Linked DNA regions of Homo sapiens: all the other regions are linked to region 4. The links come from fine-mapping of genetic effects on gene expression. A gene starts in region 4. Each other region holds a variant in brackets. All regions are shown on one strand. Distances are between the middles of the regions. Region 1 overlaps DNAH17 (dynein axonemal heavy chain 17). Region 2 overlaps CYTH1 (cytohesin 1). Region 3 has its middle 9.4 kb from the start of CYTH1. Region 4 holds the start of USP36 (ubiquitin specific peptidase 36). Region 5 overlaps USP36 (ubiquitin specific peptidase 36). Region 6 overlaps USP36 (ubiquitin specific peptidase 36). Region 7 overlaps USP36 (ubiquitin specific peptidase 36).

Evidence for each region.
Region 1: its variant is fine-mapped to the expression of USP36 in coronary artery (GTEx, PIP 0.94).
Region 2: its variant is fine-mapped to the expression of USP36 in monocytes (Quach 2016, PIP 0.95).
Region 3: its variant is fine-mapped to the expression of USP36 in adrenal gland (GTEx, PIP above 0.99). The same link has a PIP of 0.9 or more in minor salivary gland.
Region 5: its variant is fine-mapped to the expression of USP36 in whole blood (INTERVAL, PIP above 0.99).
Region 6: its variant is fine-mapped to the expression of USP36 in whole blood (INTERVAL, PIP above 0.99).
Region 7: its variant is fine-mapped to the expression of USP36 in whole blood (TOPMed, PIP above 0.99).

What each region holds. Positions count from the first base shown.
Region 1 is chr17:78,529,670-78,533,669 of GRCh38, forward strand. DNAH17 (dynein axonemal heavy chain 17) reads right to left here. Exons shown (of 81, transcript NM_173628.4): 20 at 2,813-3,067; 21 at 674-843; 22 at 1-25. It also overlaps the pseudogene RN7SL454P. Among named protein-coding and RNA genes, the nearest start is that of DNAH17, 46 kb to the right of the region's middle. RefSeq lists an enhancer at 2,699-3,898. The variant C/T (reference allele first, on the strand shown) is at 1,915.
Region 2 is chr17:78,753,870-78,757,944 of GRCh38, forward strand. The region is part of intron 1 of CYTH1 (cytohesin 1); the gene reads right to left. Among named protein-coding and RNA genes, the nearest start is that of CYTH1, 26 kb to the right of the region's middle. The variant C/CA (reference allele first, on the strand shown) is at 2,041.
Region 3 is chr17:78,789,590-78,793,664 of GRCh38, forward strand. It overlaps a transcript of USP36 not described here. Among named protein-coding and RNA genes, the nearest start is that of CYTH1, 9.4 kb to the left of the region's middle. RefSeq lists an enhancer at 1,686-1,855. The variant T/C (reference allele first, on the strand shown) is at 2,214.
Region 4 is chr17:78,838,570-78,842,644 of GRCh38, forward strand. USP36 (ubiquitin specific peptidase 36) reads right to left here and starts at 2,245. Exons shown (of 21, transcript NM_001385174.1): 1 at 2,167-2,245; 2 at 18-181. LOC124904067 (a long non-coding RNA gene) reads left to right here and starts at 2,545. Exons shown (of 2, transcript XR_007065923.1): 1 at 2,545-4,075. RefSeq lists enhancers at 1-213, 214-728, 2,323-2,512 and silencers at 1,653-2,172, 2,633-2,732.
Region 5 is chr17:78,798,055-78,802,127 of GRCh38, forward strand. USP36 (ubiquitin specific peptidase 36) reads right to left here. Exons shown (of 21, transcript NM_001385174.1): 18 at 1,613-1,714; 19 at 854-969; 20 at 346-497. The coding sequence ends at 366. Among named protein-coding and RNA genes, the nearest start is that of CYTH1, 18 kb to the left of the region's middle. The variant C/T (reference allele first, on the strand shown) is at 2,327.
Region 6 is chr17:78,806,850-78,810,910 of GRCh38, forward strand. It overlaps USP36 (ubiquitin specific peptidase 36), which reads right to left. Exons shown (of 21, transcript NM_001385174.1): 14 at 110-787. Among named protein-coding and RNA genes, the nearest start is that of CYTH1, 27 kb to the left of the region's middle. The variant A/G (reference allele first, on the strand shown) is at 2,468.
Region 7 is chr17:78,817,494-78,821,568 of GRCh38, forward strand. USP36 (ubiquitin specific peptidase 36) reads right to left here. Exons shown (of 21, transcript NM_001385174.1): 8 at 3,498-3,568; 9 at 2,437-2,519; 10 at 1,174-1,285. Among named protein-coding and RNA genes, the nearest start is that of USP36, 21 kb to the right of the region's middle. The variant TA/T (reference allele first, on the strand shown) is at 1,618.

The DNA of each region.
Region 1 (4,000 bases), 310 kb before region 4:
CATGAAGGCTTCCAGGTCAGCCAGGCTAAGGGACAAGGGGACCATTTGTGTGGCCCCAGCCCCCCTTAGGCCCACCCTTGATGGTACGGAGCCCCATGAGAGGGGGACGACCGCGGTGAGGTCAACTGGCCATCACTGAAGGCCCCAGGTGGGGAGGGAGCGCCCCTGCCCACCTTGGATCCCTCCAGCTCACTCAGCCCCTGCCCAGACATCACCCCAAGCCTCAGCAACTTAGCTCAAGCCCATCCTCAAGTCCCAAGCTACGGCCACATCCCAGAGGCCTTCACTAGCCTCCCGGATGGAATTCAGCCAGGCAATGCTCTCTCCTGGCACTGTGCCCATCATGGCCCTGATGGCCGCCTATAATCCCACAGCTGCCAGTCTGTTTGTTCAGCGCCAGCCTTCCCTGACAGACTTCTGGTTTCCTCCGCATCTGGCACCCGGACAGAGCAGGTGCTCGGTACACCGGGTTTGGAGAAGGGATAATGTTTGCTCGCAGCCCGGTGACACCTTTCTGCTCACGCTTGGTGGGGTAGTTGGCCTTGAAGCCCAGCCTCCACCCCCTGCTACCCCAGAGGAGGCACCTGACAAATGCCACCCACTCAAGTGGAAGGCCACTCCCTGGTGCTCTGCACATTCCTTGGGCTCCCCGAGTACATGGCTGGGGACCCACCTGTTGGTGACGTGGTTGCTCAGGTGCCGCTTGAACATGAAGCCCCAGCGCCGGATTGTGCTGAGCAGGGCCTGCTTGAAGGGGCGGCAGTCGCACTGCAGCCAGCCGTGGAACACCTTGGTGTTCTCGCACTTGGACACCTCCTCATACAGCTTCTCGTAGGAGTCGATCTGGAAAACACGGCCACCGGCGGCCTGTCATAGCCTGCAAGCCTAGGGGGGGCGTCAGCACAGGGCCTCAGTCCAGGGCCTTCCTGCACTGCACCTGCGCTGCTCACCTGCCGGCCACTCTGGGGCCAGGGTCAGCAAAGGGCAGTACGGGACACATGGGGGCCCTCATTCCAAGTTATTGTTCCTTCCAGCCCCAGAGTCTAGCCCCAGAAGGTGCCAGTCCATCAGAAAGGGGCAGAAGGGGTCATGGCAGCAGGACTTCTGAAGCTGGGTAGGACAGAAGCTTCAAGAGGTGAACCAGGTCACAGGCTCCTAAAGGGCATCCCTAGCTCATCCTTCTACCTGAGGCCTCTGTCACTCCTCCTGCTGCCCCAACCCTGTGCTACAGAATGTACCCCTGGGCATGGGTCACCCTTGCCCACGGGGCCCTCTTTCTCACTGTGCATTGGGAACAGAGCTAGAGGTTTGTGCGTTAACTATGTTTTCTTATTTTATGCATTCTTTCTGCAGCTGTTGGGTAAAGTGTTCTGTAGCTGTCTGTTGGTCCCTGTGATCTAAAGTGCAGTTTAACTCCAATGTTTCTTTGCTGATTTTCTGTCTAGATGATCTGTCTGACGCTGAGAGCAGGGTGTTGAAAACCCTAACTGTTACTGTACTGGGGTCTCTCCCTTTAGATCTACCACTGTTTGCTTTATATATCTGGGTGCTCTGGTGCTGGGCGCATAGATATGTAGAATTGTTAAATCCTCTCGCTGAGTTGATCCTTTTGTCATTACATAGTGACCTTCTTGGTCTCGTTTTACTGTTTGTGACATAAAGTCTGTCTTTTTTTTTTTTTTTTTTTTGAGATGGAGTCTTGCTCTGTCACCAGGCTGGAGTGCAGTGGCGTGATCTTGACTCACTGCAAGCTCCGCCTCCTGGGTTCACACCATTCTCTTGCCTCAGCCTCCCGAGTAGCTGGAACTACAGGCGCCTGCCACCACGCCCAGCTAATTTTTTGTATTTTCAGTACAGATGGGGTTTCACCGTGTTAGCCAGGATGGTCTCGATCTCCTGACCTCACGATCCAAC[C/T]GCCTCGGCCTCCCAAAGTGCTGGTATCACAGGCGTGAGCCACCACGCCCGGCCGACATAAAGTCTGTCTTATCTGATGTAACTATAGTTATTCCTACTTGTTCTTGGTTTCTGTTTGTGTGGAATCTCTTTTTCTATTCTTTTGCATTCAATCTGTCTTTACAGGTGAAGTGAGTTTCTTCTAAGCAGCATATATTGGGGTTACCTTCATCCATTCAGACAATCTATATCTTTTAAGTGGGGAATTGAATCCATTTACATTTGAGGTTATTACACTGACAGGTGTGATTTTCTGTGTTCTTCATGCTCTGACATCTGGGGCCTTGCCCATGGACGACCCCTCCCAGGCCTAGTCAATTTTGAGAGACAACAAACAATTCACCTGGGGGTGTGGTTTCATATGCAAATGAGCCAACCCGGAGCCCACACCTCCGACCATCCCCTTGATGGGGCTCTCACAGGGTTTTACCTTCTGGGCTGCTACCCACTAGCCCTCAGCCCTCATCTCCCTGAGGTCAGGTACCAGACAGCCCCTATAGCCTAGAGCCTGCTGAAATTATTCAAACTTGCCAACCCTAAGCCTGTGACCTCTGCCCATTCCTTCCCTGGAAGCCACAATAAAGGCTCTTTATTTTCCCCACATTTTCCCCAGCTCCCTCTGCCTCCTGACTGACCCTGATGCTACCCCGTGCAGGCCTGTGTGGTGTGCTATGCCCCCTTCTTGGGAACTGTAAGTAACAAACTGCCTTTCTAATGGTGGTCACCTCCTGATGTTTGCCTTGCCCTACCTGGAAACCTGCATCTTAAAACAATTCACCCAAGTTTTAAAGCAAGCCTGGTGATCCTCTCCTGGAAGACTCTGGAGACAAGGAGGCTGGTGGGTGAGGTCTGCACGCACCTGCTCCTGGAACTGAGCCAGGGTGGGCGGTGTCTTGGGGATGGTGTCATCTGTCCAGGTGTCCAAGTCCTCCGCAGTGACTGCACACCCATATATCAGGAAATTCTTCATAAACTCCTGCAGGTTGTCCGTCCAGAGGTAGGAGTACCTCTCAAAGGAATCCTGGTACTCCTCGGCCTCCTTCATGGCATTGATGACCAGGCTGGACACCTCCTCCCTCATCTCTATGAGGTCTGTGTTATCTTCCAGGTCCATCTGAAAGGGGCAGGGGAGAAGCAAAAAGGGGAGGTATGTTGCCTGGTTCATAATTTAGGTGTTGTCCTCTCGGCCTTGAGAAGTGGTTCTCTGTTGGCGAAAGGGCTTCCAATCTCTCATGATGACCTGCTCTTTTTCCAGCCTGGGCCGATCACCCCTCTTTAGGCAACCTGGTGGTCCCCCACTCCTGGGAGGTCACCATACTGATGCCAAACTTAGTGGATAGCACACTACAGCCCAGAACTCCTGGGCTCAAGCGATCCTCCTGCCTCAGCCTCCCAAGTAGCTGGGACCACAGGCACGTGCCACTGTGCCTGGCCCAAGCTCTCACCACGGGAAATAGGAACCTTTGCCGATTTGCAATATTCTGCCATGGGAAGGTATGCCAAGTGTGACGTTTGTCTGGGGAACCCCGAGATGACTCACACATTGATTCATTCATTCGATAGCTCGCTCTCACTGCGTACCACATGCTGGGATAGATACTGGGGCACAGGCAGGGAGTGTACAGCCCAGGAATGGGGTCTGACATTCATCAAAGAATCACAGAAAAAAGCATCTCCACCCTCCCCCTTGCTTCAGGTGAAATGGGGAGCAGGTCAGGGAATGGCCCCGAGGAAATGGCCATTGGTCTGAGAGCTGATGGATGGGTAGACAAGGAGCAAGAGAAGCGGCTTTCCTGGCAACAGCAAAGCACGTGCAAAGGCCCCGTGGTGGGAGGAGGCAGCGTGTTAGGGGAACTAAAGGAAGTCTACTGTCGGTGGCTAGAGCAGAGAGCACGAGAGGCCAGTGCTATACGGATCTTTTTAGTTGCCAGTGACAGAAAACCCAACCCAAACTGGTTAAGCAAAGAGAGAACTCGTTGGCTTATATACAGGACTGGAGAATCCCAAGGTGGTCGGTGTGTGTATTAATCACATTTTTATTGTCTGC
Region 2 (4,075 bases), 85 kb before region 4:
CCTTGCAGAATTGTTCTAAAATGATTTTTAAAATAATCCCTTAAAAAATATAAGAAGTCCCCCACCTCACCCCTTTTTTAAAATGATTCACCACTGAGTGGTAATGACATCATCAATCCAGCGTACTGCAAACACCTGGCTGATGGCATGCTAGGATCCTCTCCTCTAGATACACGTGGAGTAGGGAGGGAGGGTCAAAGTGGCCGTTGTGTGAAGCTATGTCACATTGTGTGTCAGGACCGTCGTGGACAAAGCGACCGGCTACTGAGAAGCAGCGCATCTAGATAAACTCGGAAAGGAAAGGCATGCGTGTGATGCTGACAGAACTTTCCAAGAGCAACTGTCTTCTCTGATCTGCCATGCTTCAAAAACAAACCCTCTTACGCAGATTTGCCCACCCATAAGAATTTATACTTCTAGTTTTTACGTGACTTTCCCTCAATTTTAAGGAAATAGAAAATTGTGGGGTTTTTTGTTTTCTTTTTTTTTTCTGAGACAGGGTCTCACTGTGTTGCCCAGGCTGGAGTGCAGTGGTGCAATCTTGGCTCACTGCAGCCTCAACCTCCCTGGTTTAAGCAATCCTCCCACCTTAGCCTCCCAAGTAGCTGGGACCACAGGTGTGCACCAACGTGCCAAACTAATTTTTTTCTTTTTTATTTGTAGAGACAGAGTGTCACTATGTTGCCCAGGCTGGTCTCAAATTCCTGGGCTCAAGCAATCCTCCTACCTCAACCTCAAAAAATGCTACAATTACAGGTGTGAGCCATCATGCCCAGCCCAAAATTGTGATTTTTAGTACAAGAATATAAAATAAATTTTTGCATTTAGTTTGTGACTGAAGTTTTATGTCACTTTTTTAAGGTAAATCCATTTTTAAATTTATGCAAAATAACATACTTATAAAAATCTTTAACTGCTTTGCATATTATACTTATGTTAAATAAAAGCTCTTCTAAGCCTTATTTTGAAACTAGTTACATATCATTTGTACATTCCATTCCTAACTAACCTCTATTATATTTTATATATAATAAAACATTTTTAAGGGGAAAATGGTCTGTCACACAATCCAGCCATTCCATGTGTAGGTATAACACAAGAGAAGTGAAAACATATCCACATAATGACTCATACATGAATGTTCCCAGCAGTTTTATACACAATAGCCCAAATCTGGAAACAACTCATATGTTCATCAACAGGTGAAGAGACCAAAAACGTGGTGCAGCCATACAGTGGAACATTACTCAGCAATGAAAAGGAACAACTGATACCCCCAACAATGAATCTCAAACATAATATTATTTATTTATTTATTTGTTTTGAGACAGAGTCTAGCTCTGTCACCCAGGCTGGAGTGCAATAGCGCAATCTCAGCTCACTGCAGCCTCCGCCTCCCGGGTTCAAGCAATTCTCCTGCCTCCACCTCCAGAGTAGCTTTCTGTATTTTTAGCAGAGACAGCCATGTTGGCCAGGCTGGTCTCGAACTCCTGATCTCAAGTGATCCGCTCGCCTCGGCCTCCCAAGTGCTGGGATTACAGGCGTGAGCCACCACGCCCAGCCTCAAACACATCATTCTGAGTAAAAGCCAGACATGTATGATGTTGGCAGTGGGTTTATTTAAAAAAAAAAAAAAGGAAAGAAAGCCAGACACAGAATATACATTGTAACATTGTATGATTTCACTTACATAAAATTCTAGGAAATACAAACTCATCTGTAGTCACAAAAACCAGATCAGTGGTTGCCTGGGGCCGGGGTAGAGGGAGGAATGGACAGCAAAAGGACATGAAGCGGCGGCCAGGCTCGGTGGCAGCACTTTGGGAGGCTGAGGCAGGGGGACTGCTTAAGCCCAGAAGCTCAAGACCAGTCTGGGCAACATAAATAAACAATTAGCTGGGCATGGTGGTGCAAGCCTGTAGTCCCAGCTACTTGGGAGGCTGAGGTGGAAGGACTGCTTGAGCCCAAGAGGTTGAGGTTGCAGTGAGCTGTGTTCATGCCACCACACTCCAGCCTGGGAGAAAGAGCAAGACACTGCCT[C/CA]AAAAAAAAAACAAAACAAAAAAAGAAAAACAAAACAAAAAGGGCCATGAAGCATCTTTTTCAGGTCAAGAAAATATTGTGCTTTATTGTGATAGTGGTTTCACTGGTGTACAAAACTGCTGAATATATCCCATCAAATTGTACACTATTTATTTATTTATTTATTTTTATTTTTTTTTTTTTTGAGACAGAGTCTTGCTGTGTCACCTAGGCTGGAGTGCAGCAGCGTGATCTCAGCTCACTGCAACCGTCACACCCTGGGTTCAAGCGATTCTTGTGCCACGGCCACTCTAGTAGCTGGGATTACAGGCGCCCACCACCACACCCAGCTAATTTTTGTATTTTTAGTAGAGACAGGGTTTCACCATGTTGGCCAGGCTGGTCTTGAACACCTGATCTCAAGTGATCCACTCGCCTCGGCCTCTCGAAGTGCTGGGATTACAGGCATGAGCCACCGCGCCCAGCCAAACTGTACACTTTAAATGGATACCATTTATTCCATGTAAATTATACCTCAATAATTTTTTTAAAACAAGGAGAAGGAACCTGAAAAGTCTGCAGCAAATAGACAAATGGAAATTAATGTGCTCATCATCACCAATTAAAGGTGCTGAAAATGTCAGTTAGTACCCCTAGTTTGCTAATGAGGCTATTTGAAGTCCTTCAGAGAACTGAGTGACACAGTGAGACCCCATCTAAAAAACAAAAAAGAATTTAAAAATCTGTCTATTCAGAACTAAATCATTATTTGAGTGGACTCATCTTCAAAAGTCTTTAACACATTTTGGGGACACAGATGTCTATTAGAAAATACCACTGGGGTGAGAGGATCACTTGAGCCGAGGAAGTCAAGGCTGCAGTGAGCTATGATCATGCCACTGCACTCCAGCCTCGGTGACAGAGCAAGATCTCATTTAAAAAAAAAAAAGCCTTCATAATCACCAGGAGACACAAGGATGCTGAGAGGTTAGGAACACAAAGTTCAACCACTGGCCTATATTCCAATAAACATGGCAAAAATTAGACTAAGATTATTCACAAGGCGGAATTTCAAGGTTTGAATTTTTTTCTTTTTTTTCTTTTTTTTTTTTTTTTTTGAGATGGAGTCTCGCTCTGTCGCCCAGGCTTCCTGGGTTCACGCCATTCTCCTGCCTCAGCCTCCTGAGTAGATGGGACTACAGACGCCCGCCACCATACCCAGCTAATTTTTTCATACTTTTAGTAGAGACAAGGTTTCACTGTGTTAGCCAGGATGGTTTTGATCTCCTGACCTCGTGATCCACCTGCCTTGGCCTCCCAAAGTGCTGGGATTACAGGCGTGAGCCACCATGCCCGGACTCAAGGTTTGAATTTTCAACATAACTTAAGAAACCCTCATCCTTTGGGGGGATGACCGTGAGTGCAGTTTAAAAAAAAGAAAAGAAACCCTCCTATGAATTAAACAGGTCTTGGTTAGAGGTCAAAGTTCTCCTTCTAATTAGAATGTAAGGTACCTGAGAACTCTATTCATGTCTAAATTGCAAGGCCCATAGAGTGTCCAGCTCATTATAGGTGTTCAATAAGTATCTGTTGAATAGATGAATAAAAAACGACCTGGGAAAGAAGCTGCTATAATTTTCCCATTCTAATACATGTAAACACTAGCCGAGGTTCTTAGAACAAAGTTCATTCTGCCAATGCTGAGAGAGGCAGGAAAAAATTTTAATTATATCAGCAACCCAAAAGATTAAAAAAATATTCAGCCGGGTGCAGTAGCTCATGCCTGAATCTCAGCACTTTGGGAGGCTGAGGCGGGCAGACTGCCTGAGGTCAGGAGTTTAAGACCAGTCCGGCCAACATGGTGAAACCCCTTCTCTACTAAAAATACAAAAAAAATTAGCCAGGCATGGCTACTTGGGAGGCTGAGGCAGGGGAATTGCTTGAACCAGGGAGGTGGAGGTTGCAGTGAGCCAAGATCGCACCACTGCACTCCAGCATGGGTGACAGAGCAAGACTCTGCCTCAAAAAAAAAAATTCAAAAAAAAGTTTAAAAAAA
Region 3 (4,075 bases), 49 kb before region 4:
TTGTCTTGCTTTGAAAACCCCCAGATTTTATTTTGCTAAAGCTTGCAATTTCTTCTGTGTGTAAATGACACTTAAAATCTGTTTGTAATGGAACTTGATTGTATCCAGCTGTCACCAACTGTTCCCTGTGCCACCCAAAAGACAGCTGGCCACGTGCCACGGTTTGGGCGTTCACTTCAAATAGAGGAGCTAGTGCTCTAGTTCCTGCTAGACTTCACCAAAATGTTTTCACTTACGCAGAAAAACAAAGGGGGTGCGGGTAGGGCTCAGGGAAGGCAATGTGAAGGGGAATTAGTGCAGTGTGGACTGCGGAGCCACTGACTTTGATGGACGGTGGGCTGGCTGTTTTCTGAGCAGGGTCCGAATGCAGTCACAAAGTATGCTGCCTTCAGCAGCTGCTCCAGTTCACTCATTCAACAAATATTTACCGGGTGGCTGGTAAGTGCTAGGCCTTGCCAAGAGAACTGTAGCCACATAAGACAGAAAAATGGCAGAATAATACCTTTTTTTTTTTTTTGAGACGAAGTCTCGCTCTGTCATCCAGGCTGGAGTGCAATAGCGCGATCTCAGCTCACTGCAACCTCGGCTTTCCAGGTTCAAGTGACTCCTCTGCCTCAGCCTCCCTGAATAGCTGGGATTACAGGCACCCACCACCACGCCTGGCTAATTTTTGTATTTTTAGTGGAGATATGGTTTCTTTTTCTTTTTCTTTTTTTTTAAAGACAGAGTCTCACTCTGTCACCCAGGCTGGAGCACAATGGCGCGGTCTCAGCTCACTGCAACCTCCACCTCCTGGGTTCAAGTGATTCTCCTGCCTCAGCCTCCCGAGTAGCTGGGACTACAGGCGTGTGCCACGAGGCCCGGCTAATTTTTTTTTATTTTTAGTAGAGACAGGGTTTCACTATGTTAGCCAGGCTGGTTTTGAACTCCTGACCTTGTGATCTGTCTGCCGTGGCCTCCCAAAGAGCTGGGACTACAGGTACAAGCCACCATGCCTGGCCTTTTTTGGCTGGTCTCGACATCTTGGGCTCAAGCAATCCTCTCATCTCAGCCTCCTGAAGTGCTGGAATTACAAGCATGAGCCACTGCGCCCGGCCAACACATTCATTTTAAAATGGCCTTAAAAAAATCACTGGTTTATGTAAAAGAACTTGAATTTCCTACACACATTTCGCAGCAAGTATTTGCCATGTACTTAGACTGTGTGTTGAAATCTGGTCTCATGATGGTAAGAAGCTACCTAAATACCTAGATCCTGCTTAAGGGAGTGGCAATCTTGTGACCTGTTTCTCACTCAATGTCTAATGGATATTTGGCAGCCATGTCCTGTTGCTTCCTCTAATCAACACCCTCCTAAATGAAGCAGTAAGGGAGAAAACCAATGAAAACACGCATGCAAGACATGTATCGTGAGAGTGACAGCTGACAATCATGATAATTTGAATCTAACCTTTGCATTTTAGAGGAGAAAAGCAAATTCATGATGCTAACTCATGGCAGACCCCTTAGAACACAGGTCTTGATTCCCAATCTGGCCTTCTTTTTTTTTTTTTTTTTTTTTTTAGCTGGAGTTTCGCTGTTGTTGCCCAGGCTGGAATGCAATGGTGCGATCTCGGCTCACCGCAACCTCCACCTCCCGGGTTCAAGCGATTCTCCTGCCTCACCCTCCCAAGTAGCTGGGATTACAGGCATGCACCACCATGCCCGGCTGATTTTGTATTTTTAGTAGAGACGGGGTTTCTCCATGTTGTGTCCTGACCTCAGGTGATCCGCCCCGCCTAGGCCTCCCAAAGTGCTGGGATTACAGGCATGAGCCACCGTGCCCGGCCCTGGCCTTCTTTTTATAGGAAGTCATGATTCAAACCTGACTCCAGCCTGACCCTACTTTAATCCCTTTAAAGCAGCAAAAATATACAGCAGTTTCCCCTTGAGAAAGCAACTTGAAGCAACAGTTTGGTACAGATTCTGCTAAGAACAAGCACATTTTTAATCTCAGGCCCCTCTCACAGGGCAATTTCCTCAATGCCTGGAGTGCTTTCTGAGATCCCAGAACAACGGGCTGGACAGCTGCCCAGAGGCCTCTAGGGGGCTGTGGAAGGCTGAAGAGGCAGGGGGGATCTGGATCACAAAATAGAGGAGACTATTTTCTCTGAACAGGAGTGAGAAACCTTATGTTGGGGAATGATTAGATTCTGGTTTCTTGCCTTAAAAGA[T/C]TGTCCTGGAGGCCAGGCACAGTGGCTCACACCTGTAATCCCAATGCTTTGGGAGGCCAAGGCGAGAAGATTATTTGAGGCCAGGATCCTATACTGAGGGGGCACCTCTTTCAGTGTCTACAGTAGAGATCCTGACAGAGGGTGGATCGGTCGGCTGTTCAGTGGGATGTATTGACTGGATCAGTTGATTCTGGGCTTGATCTAGAGTATGCAGCAAATGCAACAGGCTCACATCTTAGAGGAGCTCTCCAGGGTGCGGAGGTCAACAGTGTCAAATCCTGGGAAGAAGTCGGTGGCAAGAGTGGGAATTAGGTCACTGAGAAGTGATGATGGCAGAAGCTAGACTAAGAACCACAGAGAGTCAACACAGAGCAAAATGAATGTCAACCAAAGGAGAGGGCAGCTGAGAGGGGACACAAGGACACACAGGCTTTTTAGGATGGGAGATGCCTGAACATGTTCCTAAGGGAAGAGTGAGACACGGGAGCAGACAGGGTAATTAATGGAGCAAGGTCCCCAGGGTGGAAGAAGTTGGCCTCAAGGGCACAGGTGGGGTGCCAGCATACACAGAGGGGGCACCTCGTCCAGCATCTCCAGTAGAGGTCCCCACAGAGGATGGGGAACAGCCCCTATACTACAGTTCCTTCCCACTCTCCCACACCAACCACCCAGCCCCTCTGGGAGGCATCAGATCAGAACAGTGGGTCTGCCCAGCAGCAGCCCCGGGGACTATTGGACATGCACATTCTCAGGCCTCATCCCAGACCTGCTGAATCAGAATGCGGGGGAAGGAGCCCGGCAACTGGTGTTTTAAGGAGCCCCTGGCAATTCTGGTGCTCACTTGAGTTTGAGACCAGGGACCAGGATGGCAACTCTCAACTCTGCTGCTCACTATGATCCCCCCGGGAAGGTTTTTTTTGTTGTCGTTGTTTTTGAGACAGAGTCTCACTCTGTCGCCCAGGCTGGAGTGCAGTGGCATGATCTTGGCTCACTGCAACCTCCACCTCCCAGGTTCAAGCAGTTCTCCTGCCTCAGCCTCCCAAGTAGTTGGGATTACAGGCACAGGCCAAGCCCAGCTAATTTTTGTATTTTTAGTAGAGACAGGGTTTCACCATGTTGGTCAGGCTGGTCTCGAACTTCTGACCTCAAGTGATCCGCCCGCCTCAGCCTCCCAAAGTGCTGGGATTACAGGTGTGAGCCACCGCGCCCGCCCCCCTCACCCCCCCAGGAAGGCTTTAAATGCTGATGCCTAAGCCTCACCCATAGATTCTGATTCTACTTCCGTCAGTATCGAATGCCTCTCCCCAGGTGCTCCTGCTGCCCTATGAGCATTGAGAACCCTGAGGTAAGAAGGAGAAGAGAACAGAGGGAGAGGAGCTGGTTTTAGCTTTGGTTTCCCCATGTTGTTTAATTTTGGGGTGGGATGGGAATTCTTGAGGTAGCCTTGGAAGTCACTTACCAAGAGTAGTGGGCACATATGCAATGAGAGAGCAAAATAGTGTGCAGGGATCACTGAAAAGAATGGGAGAGAGAGGAAGGAGTTGCCTGAAGACCAAGGGCAGAAATCCCAAAAGGCAGGCAGAGCCCAACGAAGAAGGGCAGCCAGACAGCCCTGAAAGCCGAATCCATGGCACCCAGATGATCTTCTCCAAGGGTCATCCCCAGTCCAGATATGGAAGGAGCAGGGGGCCAAGCCAAGGCGGGATCTGCACGAAGCAGCAGCAGGGCCACCTCCGGGCAAGAGTGTGACTCCAGGGAGTCAGCTCAGCTGACAAGACACAGAAAGCTGCCCGTCTGCATGTCACGTGACCTGTCCACACACAGTCCTCCTTTACCACCACGTCCTTGGCGTACCCACATCC
Region 4 (4,075 bases):
AAGCCTCGCAGACTCACCTGGGATGTGCAGACTTGGGCCTGCTGTCCTACTGCGGCATGGAACCAGGATCTTAACGGAGGGCTGAGTTTGGTTGGGCAGGTGCTACGCGGAGCTCCTGAATGTAAGCGCTCCTGGACTGTGGCCTGTTCAAACACCGAAGCCGCAGAGCGGGCGTCAGAGCCTGTGGGAGGGACAGGGAGACCATCAGTGGAGGCGACTCTTCCTGTGCCTTCTCTTCAGCTACTTCCCAGGGATGCGGCGCGCACCGGGAACCCTCTACCACGAAAAAGCCGTCCAAGGAGCATCCACGCGTGCACTCAGGATGAGGCGGGTGGACCGTACTACCTCATCACCAGTTGTTGTAATGCACACGATATGAACACCTTAACCTTGACCCCAGACAAGCCCAGAGAAGGAAAACCTCCCCAACACCTGCCAGTCAGCTCCAGTCTAATCTTATTTCCAAAGAGTAAGAGGTAATAAATCCCCAAGTTTTGGATTTAATGAACCAGTAAAACTTCAATAACAACAACAACAAACCTCAGGGAGTAATAGGAGTTGCCAAAATTTTGCTTTGCTAAGTGTGGATTTTCTCTTTCATTACCATCTACGATCACTATGATTACATAAAATTAAGGTTCGTAAAAACAGTTTACAGTGAAAACATTCAAACACACAGATGGAGAACCGCACAGGGAGCACATGAGCCCCCCTTATTCAGCCTCAGTAACTACATCTGACCCATCCTGAGTCACTTCCCATCCCCAGGTAATTCTACAGCAAATCTCAGACCTATGACTTCATCCATAAATAAAAGCATACCAACTCCCGAAAAATGTGTAAGGAAATGATCTCAGAATAAAAGCCATCTACAAAGTGAAGACATCCAGTCGTATTAAAAACTCCCCACAATATCACTGCTTTCGGTTAGGACTCACATCTACCCTGGAAGGTGAGAACTCTGTCATGCACAACCAACGCTTGAGAACCACTTAGGGAGGGGATAAACGAACCTTGGGAGATGTAACCCAGTTTCACTCGAGATAAGTAACTTTGAACTTAACCCACTCCTTAATGTAGATGCAGAGATTTTGAACACAATTTTTCAAGTGGGACAGGTCAATCTCTACTTCACCAATTCCACCTAAAACATTAAGCAATAACCTAAACAACGCTCGCTCGCTCTCTGACGTGTAGGAGCCCGAGACAAGTGTTCCTGTAATCACTAGCAATCCCTCCGACGCACACACCATCCACACTCTACCCAACTCAGGAAGGATGCTCTCTCTTGTCCAAGGACAGCACAGGCCTCATCCACATTTCCACCTGCGCGAACCCCAGCCAGCACCATTTAGGCTCATTCCCGCTCCCTCCTCCTTCTAAAGTCACTTTTCCAGGATGAACTGCAACGGACGCTCGCAGGGTCAACCACGTGCTGGGGAGAGGAGCCCACGGAAGCAGCGGCCTCCCGGGGCCCAGCGCCGCGCTCCAGGGGCCTCCCGGGCGACTCCGCAGCGCCTGCCCCGAGCCCGGCCGCGGACACAGCGACCCGAGCACCTCTCCCCGAGCATGGCTCCGTGGCGAGCGTTACGTAAACGGGGGCGCGCGGAGTCTCCCCTCTCGTGTGTCTGGGTTTGGCGGCCGCCACTCCAGCCCCAGGCCCAGGACCCCCACGCCACCCGCCAGAAGCAGCAGCATCGGAACCGCACCCCGCCCCGGGCTCCATGGCCTCCTCCGCAACCACGAGGAAGGTGCCCGCCCCGGGGCCGCACCCGCCCCGCTGAGCTCTGCGGCCGCACGCGACGCCCTCGCCCTGATTCCGACTTCAACCTCTCCGAAGTTGACCTGAATCCTGCACAGACAGCGGGCCCCGGCGACCCCCATCACCGGCCCGGAGCCCGGGGGACGGCGGAGACCGGCGAGGACAGCCCGGCCCCGGACCCTCCTCGGGAATACCCGGGCTCTGGAGAAGCGAGCTCGCGAGCGGGCGGAGCATCCCGGGTCCTCCTCGGGGACGGCCGAAGCCCTGCGCGGACCCGCGCCCACGTTCTCCCTGAGCGTCCCGGCTGCGCCCGCCAGCCCTTCCCGCGCCCCAGGCCTCGCGGAACCCCCCGCCCCGGTCTCGTCCCCAGGCCTGCGCACCGCCCCGACCCGACCCCAGCCTACCCCGGCCTCTCCGCGGGCGCGCCACAAGCCTACGCAGCCCTGGCGACTCCTTCGGCCCGCGGCCCAGCACGCGCACCATCCGGGCCTCCGGCGCCTCACACACGTGTCACCGCGACGCTTAAAGGCGCCGCACCCAGCGTTCGCGCTGCGCTAACTCCGAAAGGGTTGGGAGGCTTTAAGAGGCGGGGCTAGATTCCGCTAACTCCCTGTCCCCGCCCACCGCCGCTTCCGTGTCGCCTACGTCACCTCCCCATCACGGGACCCCGCCAGCCTACGTGATGACGCAAGTGCGCAGAGCCACAGGCGCTCCCGCCCCTGTGCCGCGGCAGGGTGACGTCTCCGCAGCGCACTAGAGGTGCCGCTACTTCCGGGTCGGCCGAGCACACCTGGCGGCGTGGCGGACGCCTGAAGTGTGACAGTGGCGCGCGCCCCCGCCCCAGAACGGGGACTCGAGGGACTTTGCCCACCCCTGCAACAGCCCTCCCGCGCTGTCTCCCGGGCAGGGAGAAGGCTGGGCTCCCCCACCTGCCCCTGGCCGTCAGGTGGCTGTGGAGAAGCGGAGGCGCGGGCGCTCGGCCTTAACGTCCCGGGCTCTGGGGCCATCCGTGACTCCCACACGCGGAGCACCTGCAGTTTGGGGAGGGAGGGATCTGGGAGCGATCGGCCAAAGCCTGGGGCTGCCGAGGAAATGGCTCTTCGGAATTAGGGATCTGAGAGTGTGAGATTTGACCTTTGTAGGCTGGTGGCGGCTGTGCAATCTCTAGCTCCACCCACTCCCTCCAAAAGCTTTGTCCTCTGACAGCTCTGCGAAGGTTTTAGCTGAGTATTTGTGAGCACGTATTTCTTTTGCAGTATTTTTAAAAATCCTCTTGATCTGAGGCAACTTCGCTGGCTTCCTCCCCATTCCCTTGGGCAGGTTGAGAGTGTTGGTTCCTGGCCTGACCTCAGAAACTCAGAGAAGCACAGGATGGGCATAAACTACTTTATCCAAAAGGCAGAACTTTGCAAACACAGTCGTATCTGCTGTGTCTTTTTTGATGTAAGTAGGAATGATGAGTAGGGTGAAGTCACAGGTAAACAACCCAAAACGAATTTCCATGCCCTCCCCACGGATCCTAAAGCAGGGACTGGAGATGGGGAGAGAGGCTAGATGTACTTGGAACAAAATTCACCTTGTATTTATTACCTGGGCGCTGGTGTTTTTTGAAAAAAGCAAACAAGATAACCATATTAGTCTGATGCTGAGACTATGCCCTATCTGTAAGAATCCTTGGGCTGGGCGCGGTGGCTCACCCTTGTAATCCCAACACTTGGAGGCCAAGGTGGGCGGATCACCTGAGGTCAGGAGTTCGAGACCAGCATGGCCAACATGGTGAAACCCCGTCTCTACTAAACATACAAAAATTAGCTGGGTGTGGTGGTGGGCGCCTGTAATCCCAGCTACTCAGGAGGCTGAGGCACGAGAATCCCTTGAACCTAGGAGGCGGAGGTTGCAGCGAGCTGAGATGTCGCCACTGCACTCCAGCCTGGGCGACAGAGCGAGACTCCGTCTCAAAAGAAAAGAAAAGAAAAGAAAAAAAGGCAGGGCACAGTGGCTCACGCCTGTAATCCTAGCACTTTGGGAGGCCGAGGCAGGCAGATCGCTTGAGGTCAGGAATTCCAGACCAGCCTGGCCAACATGGTGAAAACCTGTCTCTACTAAAAATACAAAAATTAGCTGGGTATGGTGGCGCACGCCTGTAATCCGAGCTACTAGGGAGGCTGAGACAGGAGAATCGCTTGTACCTGGGAGGTGGAGGTTGCAATGAGCTGAGATCGTGCCATTGCACTCCAGCAGCCTGGACAACAGAGCAATACTTGGTCTAAAAAAAAAAAAAAGAAAGAAATGCAACGTAGGTCTCTCACGAAA
Region 5 (4,073 bases), 41 kb before region 4:
CATCCCACACACACCCCACACATGCCCTTCTCCAAGTGACCAGAACACATGCCACAGATGCCAGGTGTACACACCCCACACCCAACACACACTACACACACCCCCTTATACACACGCATCCCACACACACCCCCTTATACACACGCATCCCACACACACCCTTCTCCAAGTGACTAGGACACACACCACAGACGCGCCCACACCACACACACCACCCAACACACATGTGCCAGATACACAGCCCACATACATCATACACACACGCCACACCCCACCACACCCCTACACACATACACGGCACACACACCCCCACCTCACCCTTACACCCACCCCCTCGGAACCGACCTCCTTCCACAGGGGCACAGTCAGCGGCGATAGCTGAGGCTGGCAGCCTTTGCTGGGTGAGTCACAGACCAGAAGTTCCGTCGAGTCTGAAGTTTCTGGAAGGCGTTGAAGTTTCTCCTCTTCTCTCTCTTAAATTTTTTAATTTTCTTTTCCTAGACCAAGAATCACAGGCATCACAGTTCCCAAAAACGGCTCTTTCCTGGCCCACGGGGCTCCATGCTGCATGCAGGTCCTGCACACAGGCCGGGCTCTCATGAGCTCTCTGGAGACCCACTCTTCACAATGACCCCTGTGCACGGCGACCTGCAGTCCCCCTATTGACAAAGGGGCGGAAGCTGCGAGGATGCATGCCCTGTCCATGGCCACACGCCCGGACAGGCCTGGGCAGCCTGGCTCTTCTCATGCTCGGCCGCTTCATGCCACTGCCGCCACCTCCAACTGCCCCGGCTCTGAGCTGAGCCACGCCGCCCTGCTCCCTCAAGCCTGTGGTCAGCATCACACATCATACCTTCCCTCGGTCAAACTCTTCGTCCCAGTCATCAACCACGGTCTCAGTCCGGGCCTGTCTGCTGTCTTCAATAGCATCCTGACTGACCGCCGACATCTTGCCATCCCAGGTCAGAACTACCAGGCAGACACGGGGGTCAGCACGAGTGCAGGTTCCCAGGTCCCCTGTGGCTTCACTTCAAGAGTGTCATTTACCAACTAGTCTACTCATAATTAGTCAACAATTTTGAGTGCCACCTTGTGGTGAAGAGAAGGACAAGAGGAGGACGGCTCGACGCCCATGTGTGGTCGGTCAGCATGGAACCCCCAGCGATGCCCTCTTAGCTAAACCCTAAACCACAGCCAAAGAGTTCAGTTCTTTCTAAACCCATGCCCTCGTCTGAGGAACAAAGATGTCATGTTTGGTCTCGAAGTCTGAATAAAAACATGCTCTGAGCAAGAAGTGACATTACCCAGGTTGGAAGAGCTTCGTCACTCTGCCCCTTCCCTACCCAAGACACAGCATGTGTGGGGCTCCTCACCCTGCCCCAACCCTCAGAAGCAGCTGTTCTGGATCCTGCCACGGACAGAAGCCACCTTCGTGCCACGGCTGAGGGTTTAAAGAGGACTCCAGCCAGTGTTGAGATTCCTCTTCCCATTCTCAAAGCCGAGCGATGCCCGCCCGCCACACTCACAGTGCACCAGGATCCATTCCACACCCTTCCCTCCTACAAAACCAACCAATGAAAGGCAAACAGAAGTCCTGTCTCCAAATCAGTACCTTTTCTCCCGTAAGCTTTATCAGATGAGTATTTGAGCAGTTCCTGGACCACATCAGACTCCCGCTCTCCATTCCAAGACACAGGAGGGGCCTGGCTCAGCCCTGCAATCGGAGCAGCCAAGAAACATTTACAGACGTTTAAAATAACCCACTGGGGAAGCAATCGCACACCTTAAATTATAAAACAACTTACAGTAAGTGGATGCTTGCCTTTTTTTTTTTTTTTTTTTTTTTTTTTTAAAGACAGGGTCTCACTATGTTTCCTAGGTTGGTCTCAAACTCCTTGGGACTCCCACTGGCCTCCCAAGGTGCTGGGATTACAGGCATGAGCCATGGCGCCCAGCCTAAATGCTTATTTACTAATGCTTACATGCTTAATTTACTAATGACCTGACACAATAGAGAAGGCTGTTGTCCAAGTCAATTCATGAGAAAGAAAACATGGAAAATAACAAAAAGCTAAAAACCAAAAAAAAAAAAACCCTCCAAAACCCCTTTAACCAGTAGTGTTAAGTCCTCAGTCTGACAGAAGGAGAGAAGAGAACTAGATCTAAATGGAATCCACCTCACCTACGGGAGAGGCCCATGCCCCAGGACCAGCCTGACACCTGGATGGCCACAGGGGTGGAGGGAACGGCCAAGCTTGGCTGCTGCCATCAGGGGCCCGACCTCCTAAGCCCTGTCCAGGGGGAACCTGGTCCCCATCAGCAACAC[C/T]GCACAGGTCCACCCAGCACCTCGGGACCAGGACAGCACTCACCACCCTCATCGGGTTCTAGAAACCCTTTCTGAACTCGTCCTCTGCCCAGCTAGCCACATAGCCCCTGGAATATACTCACCTCCCTTCACACAAATCTGACCTCATTTCTCCCTGCCTCCAATTCCTCAGTGAGCTCCAGGCTAAGTGTCCCCTGCCCCCACACAGTGGCTTCCATGGTTCCCATCTCATCCACACAGCCCAGGGACCCGGCCATGCAGAGCAGCCTGCCTGCTCCCAACGTGCTGCGCCTCCTGCCCTTGGGTCTGGTGCCCTGCCCATTTAGCCACTCTCCTCAGGTGCACAGGACTGCAAGAGCCCATGCGGCCCCCAGCGCCTCCTTGCTGAGCATGAGCCCTTACTGTGTGGTTCTGGCTCTGCCAGGGAGCCCCGAGGGCCCAGGGCGCACTTCAGTAGACACAACCAGCACCTGGCATGGACCCTGGCGCACCGCAAGTGCTCAAGTGATGTCCCTTGCACTAACAAGCCAACTCCACTTCGCTCCGAGGGTGGCACGGAGCACAGCTCTGGTGCCATGTTAGGGCAGTATTTTTTTTTTTTTTTTTTTTTTTTTGAGACGGAGTCTCACTCTGTCACCCAGGCTGGAGTGCAGTGGCGCAATCTCGGCTCACTGCAAGCTCCGCCTCCTGGGTTCACACCATTCTCCTGCCTCAGCCTCCCGAGTAGCTGGGACTAGAGGCGCCCGCCACCATGCCTGGCTAACTTTTTGTATTTTTAGTAGAGACGGGGTTTCACCGTGTCAGCCAGGATGGTCTCGATCTCCTAACCTTGTGATCCGCCCGCCTCGGCCTCCCAAAGTGTTGGGATTACAGGCGTGAGCCACCACCCCCGGCCAGGGCAGTACTTCTGAGAGCATGCTGGCCAGCAAACTCAGTCGGCACTAGCTAGCACCCACGTTTTGCTATTTATTTCATACCATTTCATTTTTAACGATAAATTCCTTTCTTAAGAGTTGGATAAATACAAATCAGTCTCTAAGGTCCTGCTGACCCCCAGATGCACTGCCATAATCAGACCTTCCAGACTGCAGAGGAGGCCTCACTCAAGCTCGGCCCCCTATACCAAGCAGCCAGGACTTTCTCTCCCCTTCACTTAACAAATGTGTTCTGTGGCGGGTGCCTGCCAAGGCATGCCCCAGCCAGCCCTAAAGAAAACAAAACACCCTCCGATTGAGGGGTGGTGCCCAAGGACAGCCACAGCACACAGGTCCCCAACAGCAAGCAAACCGTGCTATGTTCTGAATGGCCCAGCTACATAGAGGGAGAGGAGGATTCACTTTTGAACCCAACTCTTCTAAATTCAACCATCACAGAAAAAAACTCAGGCTGGGAGTTCAGGGAGTCATTCCGTGAGAAGCTGTAGACAGAACAGCTTTGAATCGGAAGACCCACTGGCATTCACAGAATGTTTTAAAGTTCATGTGCACTGTAACCTCTCTCATGGGGCTGTTTCAGTCAAATGCTGTGACACATGAGGAAGCTTCAACCCCATCACCCAAGGGAGCAGACTCGGGGGTGGGGGGTGAAGGTTGGTAGGGTCCCAGGGCCCTCCACATCTTCTCCCAGACCCTCCCAAGCTCAGATGCAGTAGACGCTGCTCTCAGCCTGTGCACTCCCCAATACCCCCTCACCCGGTGCACACCCACGCGGTCCCCCACCCCCTTGCCCGGTGCACACCCACGCGGTC
Region 6 (4,061 bases), 32 kb before region 4:
GAGGGAGGCCAAAGCCCCCGGACAATGTTCTCACTCCCTTCAAACCACAACCAAGCAACTCTTGGAGCTCTCCTGATACACAGCAGCGGCGAGACCCCCACACACCCACCTTCTTGGCAGAAAGGGCCAGTTTTTTGGCTGGTGGAGGAGACATGGTGCTTGCAGGCTCAGTGGTGGTGTTGCTCAGGACAGGGGACTTCAGCTTCACCGTCTTAGAATCTGCTCCACTTGGCGGCGTTTTGGAGTGGCCAGCGGTGGAACAGTTCGTTTCCTGAGAATCGCAGAGATGGGCCGCTCCACTCCTGGGGGTCTGGGGGGCCTTGGTGGAGTCGCTGCTGGCCGAGTGCTCTGGGCTGGAGCTGCTGGAGCCCCTCCTGTCGAGGCCAGCGCTCTCGTCGTTCCCCTTCAGCCCATGCCCGTTGGCAGTGGCTGTAGCCAGGAGCTTAGGTGAGGTAGAGAGGACAACATCCCTGCTGTCCCAGGAGCCCTGCCTTTGGCTCCCAGATCTGCTGCTATTCGAGTTGCTGGTCCCAGGCAGCCCCTGAGCAGTTCTGGGGGAAAAGTGCTGTGGAGGAGCTGGCTTCTTCACCTTCTTTCCAGGGTCGTCTAGGATGGTTGGCATGTGTGTGGGTGTCTGGGAGAGTTTGGGGGAAGGGGACCCCGAGGGCAGCTTTGGAGGAATGCAGCCGTTCTGGGACTTCAGGCCCAGGGTGGAGCCATTCCTGGATATGGGCACACCAATCTCTTCAGTGGTGTGCGGCTTCTTCATCGTCCCAGAGTCTTGTCGCTAAGGAGACCAAAGCAGAAAACACAACTGAGGAAGCGAGAAGTCTCAGCTGGGCCACATCTTCTTAAGGCCACAGTGAATCTTAGTAGCAGGCATGGCCTCTGATTAGCATGCTCAAGATAAATTATTTATCTGGACTCTTGGTAAAGACACTGTGGCTTCTCTGAACAATTCTGGTGTTCTGTGACATCCCAAGAACAGGGACCACAGCCGTGTACCACCACACCTGGCTAATTTCTGTATTTTTGACAGAGATGGGGTTTCACCATGTTGGCCAGGCTGGTCTCAAACTTCTGGCCTCGAGCAGTCCACCTGCCTCAGCCTCCAGAAGTGTTGGGATTACAGGTGTGAGCCATAGCACCTGGCCTGAATACATATCTTTATGGCCACCTTTACTATAAAACCAGTACATTTTCATCAAGATTTGGGAAGAGAAAAAAGTATAAAGGAAGAAATTTAGCAAAGTTCCATCACCTAAACATAACCATGCATTAACATTCTAGTGCTTTCTTTTTTCAATCTTTTCTTCCAAATGGTTCTGGCCTGAAGAGTTGCATCCCAGTTTTATCTTAAAGCTATTATCTCAAGCATTTTTATGGGCGATAACTCTCAATAAATATCTTTAAGACAGAGCCTTGCTCTGTTGCCCAGGCTGGAGTGCAGTGGCATGATGATGTCATCATAACTCACTGCAGCCTCAACCTTCTGGGCTCAAGAGATCCTCCCACTTCAGCTGCCCAACTGGCTAGGACTATAGGAGTAGACCACCACACCCGAATAATTATTACTATTTTGTAGAGATGGGGATCTTGCTATGTTGCCCCGGCTAGCCTTGAATTCCTGAGCTCAAGCAATCCTCCCACCCTGGCCTCTCAAAGTGCTGGGATTACAGGCCTGAGCAACTGCACCCTGCCTGTCGGCCTGTCTTTGACATTTTACTATATATACTATGTACTACTGATACACATTAACTGTATGGTTAATTTATATAAGCTATATTGTCTCCAACTGTTGAAATTAAAAATACTGTACAGTATATGTGTGTGTATCCTTTACCCTTCAGAGCACTTATTACAACTGCATAGAAATAACTTATTATTCTGTATTTAGATGCTGAATGTCAGCCTTCCCCTGCTTGACCAAGAGGCTGTACCCGTTATCTCTCTCGTTCCCACTGCAGCCCTCACCAGCAACTCAAGGGTCTGGTATAGAGTCGGTGCTTAAAAAATATTTGTTGAGCTTTTCCTGTACTTAGTACTCCATGCTAATTTTCTGGAAATGGAATTACAAGGCTAATTTTCTGGAAATGAAATTACAGATTTCATTTTCATGAAATCTGATGCAAAATGCCAAACTGCTTTTACTATACTCCAGCCACATCTATTTTTCAAAACATTTGCTAATTTGACACTCGTTTGGGCTATTACCACTTTAACATTCATATTCTCTGCACATGCACTAAAGTGATCTTCATTTGAATGAGATCTTTTGTTTACAAATGTTAACCTTTTGTTGACAATATTTTACAAGGTTTTATTGCTTCATTTGTTTGTAGTAAATTATGTACAAAAATGTAAATCTTAGTCAATTCATAATTCTTCTACATTTTATCCTTCAACTTTAAGCATACAAAGTCTTCTTCCCTTCCCAGAGGTTAAGAATTTACCTCTATTTTCTTCC[A/G]AGTTTTGTTTTGTTCCCTACATTCTATTCTTTGTTAATACTGTTTTCTAAAAGGAATTCATCTTTCCACTGCACCGCAAAGCCGTTTCACTGGCTGAACATTTCCATACACACTAGAACTTGCACCATGTCATTTAGAGTAAAACGGCTCGTCTGCTTGCAGTGTATTTGGAAAATCACGTTTGTAATGAAAATGCTCATGGTCAGTGAAGCGCCCCTGCAGGTGTGCCTGACACAGGGACTCTCCTTGAGCCAATCTCCACCCTCGGGCATCACTCTGCCCATGGAGTTCCTGTGGCAAGTGGGGCTTCCTTTGTTTTTCTGGGGTTTTTTGAGACAGGGTCTCATTCTGTTGTCCAGGCTGGAGCGCAGTGGCACAATGATAGCTCAATGCAGCCTTGTGTTTAAGTGATCCTCCTGCCTCAACCTCCAAACAGCTGGGACAACAGACGTGCACCACCACACCTGGCTAATTTTTGCACTTTTTTTGGAGATGGGGTTTTGGAGATGGGGGTCTTTCTATGTTGCCCAGGCTGCTTCCTTTTTTTGAGATGGAGTCCCGCTCTGTCACCCAGGCTGGAGTGCAGTGGCACAATCTCAGCTCACTGCAACCTCCACCTCCCGGGTTCAAGCGATTCTCCTACCTCGGCCTCTCGAATAGCTGGGATTACAGGCGCACGCCACCATGCCCAGCTAACTTTTGTATTTTTAGTAGAGACAGGGTCTCACCATATTGGCAAGCTGGTCTCAAACTCCTGACCTCAAATGGTCCACCCACCTCAGCCTCCCAAAGTGCCCGGCCCCCCTCTTCTTTTTTTTGTAGACAAGGTCTCACTCTGTCACCTTGCCTGGAATTCACCAGCGTGATCATGGCTCACTGCATACAGCCTCAACCTCCCGGGTTCAAGTGATCCTCCCCCAACAGCTTACTGAATATTCTCTGTGCTGATGGGATCTATGTTGCCCAGGCTACTTTTTAAATTTGTTTTGAGACAGGGTCTTGCTCTGTTGCCCAGGCTGGTGTGGAGTGGTATGATCATGACTCACTCCAGCCTTAATCTCCCTGGCTCAAGTGATCCTCCCACCTCAGCCTCCTGAGTAGCTGGGAATACAGGCACGTGCCATTAAACCTGGCTAGCTTTTGCATTTTTAGTAGAGACAGGGTTTTGCCCAGGTTGGTCTCGAACTCCTGGGATCCACTGATCTTCCCACATCGGCTTCCCAAAGTGTTGGAATTACAGACATGAGTCACAGTCCCAGGCCCAGGCTGCTTCCTAACTTCCTAGTCTGGGCTACAGTGACCACCAACTTTGCAATTATATCATGTATTTTACTGCCACTTCAATTCTAATGCTTCTAATTTCAGCTTCTATTTTCTTTAATGTGAAGAGAAATACAGATGTACGTAAATGACCAAAACCCCTGCAGACTGTGAAAGGCCCTGACTGCCTGTGTGTGGGGTTCAACTCTTCATTCTAAAGGGAGAGGAAGACGATCCATCAAAAACAGTCATCCAGGCCGGGCACGGTGGCTCATGCCTGTATCCCAGGACTCTGGGAGGTCAAGCTGAGCGAATCACTTGAGGTCAGGAGTT
Region 7 (4,075 bases), 21 kb before region 4:
CCTGTTATCCCAGCACTTTAGGAGGCTGAGGCAGGCGGATCACCTGAGCTCAGGAGTTCGAGACCAGCCTGGCCACCATGGCAAAACCCCATCTCTACTAAAAATACAAAAATTAGCCAGGTGTGGTGGTGGGCGCCTTAATCCCAACTACTCTGGAGGCTGATGCAGGAGAATCACTTGAACCCAGAAGGTGGAGACAGCGCCACTGCAATCCAGCCTGGGCATCAGAGCAAGACTCTGTCTCAAAAAAAAAAAAAAGAGAAAAAAGAAAAAAGAAACACATCTTCTATGAAAATGCCACTATAGGCCAGGTATGGTGGCTCACACCTGTAATCCCAGCACTGTGAGAGGTCAAGGCATGCAGGTCACTTGAGCCCAGGAGTTTGAGACCACCCTGGGCAACACAGCAAGATGCTGTCTCTACAAAAAACTTTTTAAAAAATTAACCAGGCATGGTGGCATGTGCCCACAGTCCCAGCTACTCAGGAGGCTAAGGCAGGGGGATCGCTTGAGCTTGGGAGGTCAAGACTGTAGTGAGCGCTGATTATGCCACTGCACTCCAGCCCAGGTGACAGAGTGAGACCCTGTCTTAAAACAAAATGAAATTTAAACAATAAAATACCATCGTGTCAAAAGTAGTTTTTCTAAACTCCATATTTCATAAAAAGCCAGAGCATGCAACGGCACCTGTTCTAGACATCAAAAGGACATGGACAATGCAAGTCCCACCGCCCAGTGCTCATCACACTCATCTGGAGAACCCTGAAAGTCCCTGCCAGGACCAGCCCAAGCACAACCAGAAGCTGCGGTAAATCCATTAAGACAGTGGCCCTGGAACTTGACTGTGTATAACAAGCATTCAGGGATTTTGCAAAAATGCAGATTCCTGGGCCCTGTCCTCCAGAGATTCAAATTCACTGGCACTGGGATAAACCCAGAAACGTCTATTTTTAAAAGGCGTCCCAGGTTGCTTCCCCTCTCTGTGACTGTCTTCCCGTCCTGGACAAGGGCGAAACTACAGTCCCTACTTCACAATATGTGTAGAACCTTTAGAACAGGGACAGGTACTGTGTAAACAGCAGCTATCAAACTCGTGGCTATCACTTTCTTCGTGTTATTCTGATGCCGACTGTGGCCCACGGAGCTGCCTGGGATGGTGTCACGAGCGCTCACCTTGGTGATCTTCCCCCCGCTGAAGTTGGCAAAGCGCTTGAGGGAAAGGGTTAAGACGTTGGATGTTCTGTGGATGGTGAAGCGCTTGCTGGCTGGAACCTTCTTCTTGCATCTATGAAGAAGGTGATGAGAAAGATTAATGAATGATTGATTCGTGCTCTGAAAAATGTTGTCTTAACGCTAAGTTAATAACAGCAACAACTGCTCTGTAATAGTGGAATCTTCATCAATGAGATTTCGACCTTCTGCTCCTCTCAAAATCACATTAAGCATGCCTCAAGTAAAGGAAAGCTACCACAGGGAAATAAGACTACAGAAAGTGGGAAGATTCTAAAGCAAAAAAATAAAAGTACTGTACCCACCAGGAAACTAAATAAAATACAGGAAAAAGTTGCTTTGGGCCAACACAGGAAAGAGCAAATTAAAGCAGATGTGGCTGAGTGA[TA/T]AAACGGGCAGGCAGGAAGTCAACGTAAGCAAAGCTAGAAGATGCGCAAACACAGGGAGAGAAAACAGAAGCAGAGGCGCGCAGCTTGGAGAGCTGCAGGAAACAGACCTAAAGAAGAGTAAAGCAGAATTAAGAATATATTCTTTAGTGCCTACAGCTTTACAAGGACCTAGATATAAAGATATTCAGCCGGCTGTAGTAGTGTGATCCCAGCACTTTGGGAGGCAAGGCAGGAAGATCACCTGAGTTCAGGAGTTCGAGACCAGCCTGGCCAACAAGGTGAAACCCTGTCACTACTAAAAATGCAACAAATGACAAAGTAAGAGTTCTATCTGCAGAAACGGAAAAATGTCCAAAACCAGTTAAGTAAAAAATGAAAGCCAAAGAAAACACTCCTTAAGAGGCAAGAGAGCAGCTGGTTGGGCACAGTCCCTGGGGCGGCCGCCCGGTGCCAGCCAGTGTGAACTGATGTGAGCTCGTGCTCTGCCACGTCCTCTTGGTGTGGCCCCATGGCTGGTCACTTCACTTCTCTGTGCCTCAGTTTCACCATCCCTAGCAATGGGAAACCACAGCCCCTACTGCACAATATATGCGGCATCTTTAGAACAGGTATGGTGTAAACTGTAGCTATAAAAATCATAGCTATTGCTTCATTCGTGTTATTTAGAAGTTTGAGTTTTTAGGACACACATAGGTTCCTCAAGAAATGCGAGCAGCGGTCACCGCTAAGGAAGAGTGGGTGGGCACAACACTGTCAGGTGAGGGGACTTATTTCCCGTCTGGTATCAGTCTTCTGCCACAAGCAACGTGAAACTTACTTAGCACACATGTAGGCATTCTCTCCACTCAGGACATCTGCTTTCACAAAAAGTTCCAGAGCACGCACAATATTCGCAGCTTGCTGAGGAGGACAAAAACAGGGAGTAAAATACACAGCAGAGGAAAAAGGCTGATTCAAGAAATGCCAAATTTAAGGTCTTTTTTAGGCTGAGGCAGCAAATCACAGAACTTAGACTCGCATAAAAATTTGCCCACTAGCTGCCAGATTGGGACTCCTTCTCCAGAGACAAGAAATGAAAGCAGCCAGGAACAGCGGCTCACGCCTATAATCCCAGCACCTTGGGAGGCCGGGGCAGGAGGATCATTGAGGCCAGGAGTTTGAGACAAGCCTGGGCAACATAGCAAGACCCCTGTCTCTGCAAAGAAATTTAAAAAATTAGCCAGGCGTGGTGGTGCATGCCTGTAGTACCAGCTGTGTGGGAGGATCACTTAAGCCTAGAGGTCAACACTACAGTGAGCTATGATTGCGCCACTGCACTCCTGCCTGGGCCACAGAGCAAGACCCTGTCCCTCAAGCCCCTATAAAAAAAAAGCAAAGCAAAGAAATGACAGCTGCAGGTCTGCCATGAATCAGTCACTTTTATCAGGATGATCTTGTAGCTGGACCTGCTCTGGAGCTTGGGTTGGCCCAGCAAAGGCAGACCACCCTCCCGCACCCTGTAGCTGCAGCAGGATGTGCGACAAAGCCAAGGCTGCTCTCCCAGGTGAGGCCCACAGAGCCACCAAGCTCCAAAGGCTGCACGCCGCCCAGAGCACACAACAGACTCTCCTCAAGCCCTGGGGACAGCGTTGTTCCTGTTCATGCTTCAGGACACAAAACCCAATTTTACCATTTTTTTCTTTAAATAAAAGGATACGCTTAGGAAAAACTCTAGAAAAAAACAGGTAAAGACAATGGTCTGTACTGCAAGGCGGCAGGGAGCAAAGGAGTTTTCTCCCTATCTATTTTGATCTGATGCCTTTACTGTTCTGCGGGTTCTGTTTCACCCTCTGGCCTCGCTCTCCTACTGCAAAAGTGAAGGGCAGGACAGATCTGTACCCGGATCTCCAGCGCGACGTCCAAGTAGGGGTCGTAGGTGTCCGAGACGCTCTTGCACACGGAGCACTTCACTGCAACAGAACAGAGGCAGTGGAGCAGGTGGGGCCTGGCAGAGGCACTCCCAGCTCCCAAGACCGAGACCCAGCAGGGAGGCAGACTCTCAGCAGGGCTTTGGCCAAAGATGAGATTCCCACTAGCCCCTGAAGCATCCTGGTGTCCGAACAGAGAGCTCTCTTTCACCACTGAAGTTCACAAAGATGGATGTCAATATCTTTGCACTCACAGGGCCCTCCCTGCCTGGACTGCTGACCACCACGTGCGGTACTCTCCTGCTGAGGGAGAGCAGAGGGAAGAGCTGCCTCCTCCCTGCACGCGTGCACGGCACTTCCTAATGAGAATATATATATATATATATATATATATATATATATTTTTTTTTTTTTTTTTTTTTTTTTGAGATAGAGTCTTGCTCTGTCACTCAGGCTGGAGTGCAGTGGTGGGATCTTGGCTCACTGCAACCTCCACCTCTTGGGTTCAAGCAATTCTCCTGACTCAGCCTCCCAAGTAGCTGGGATTGC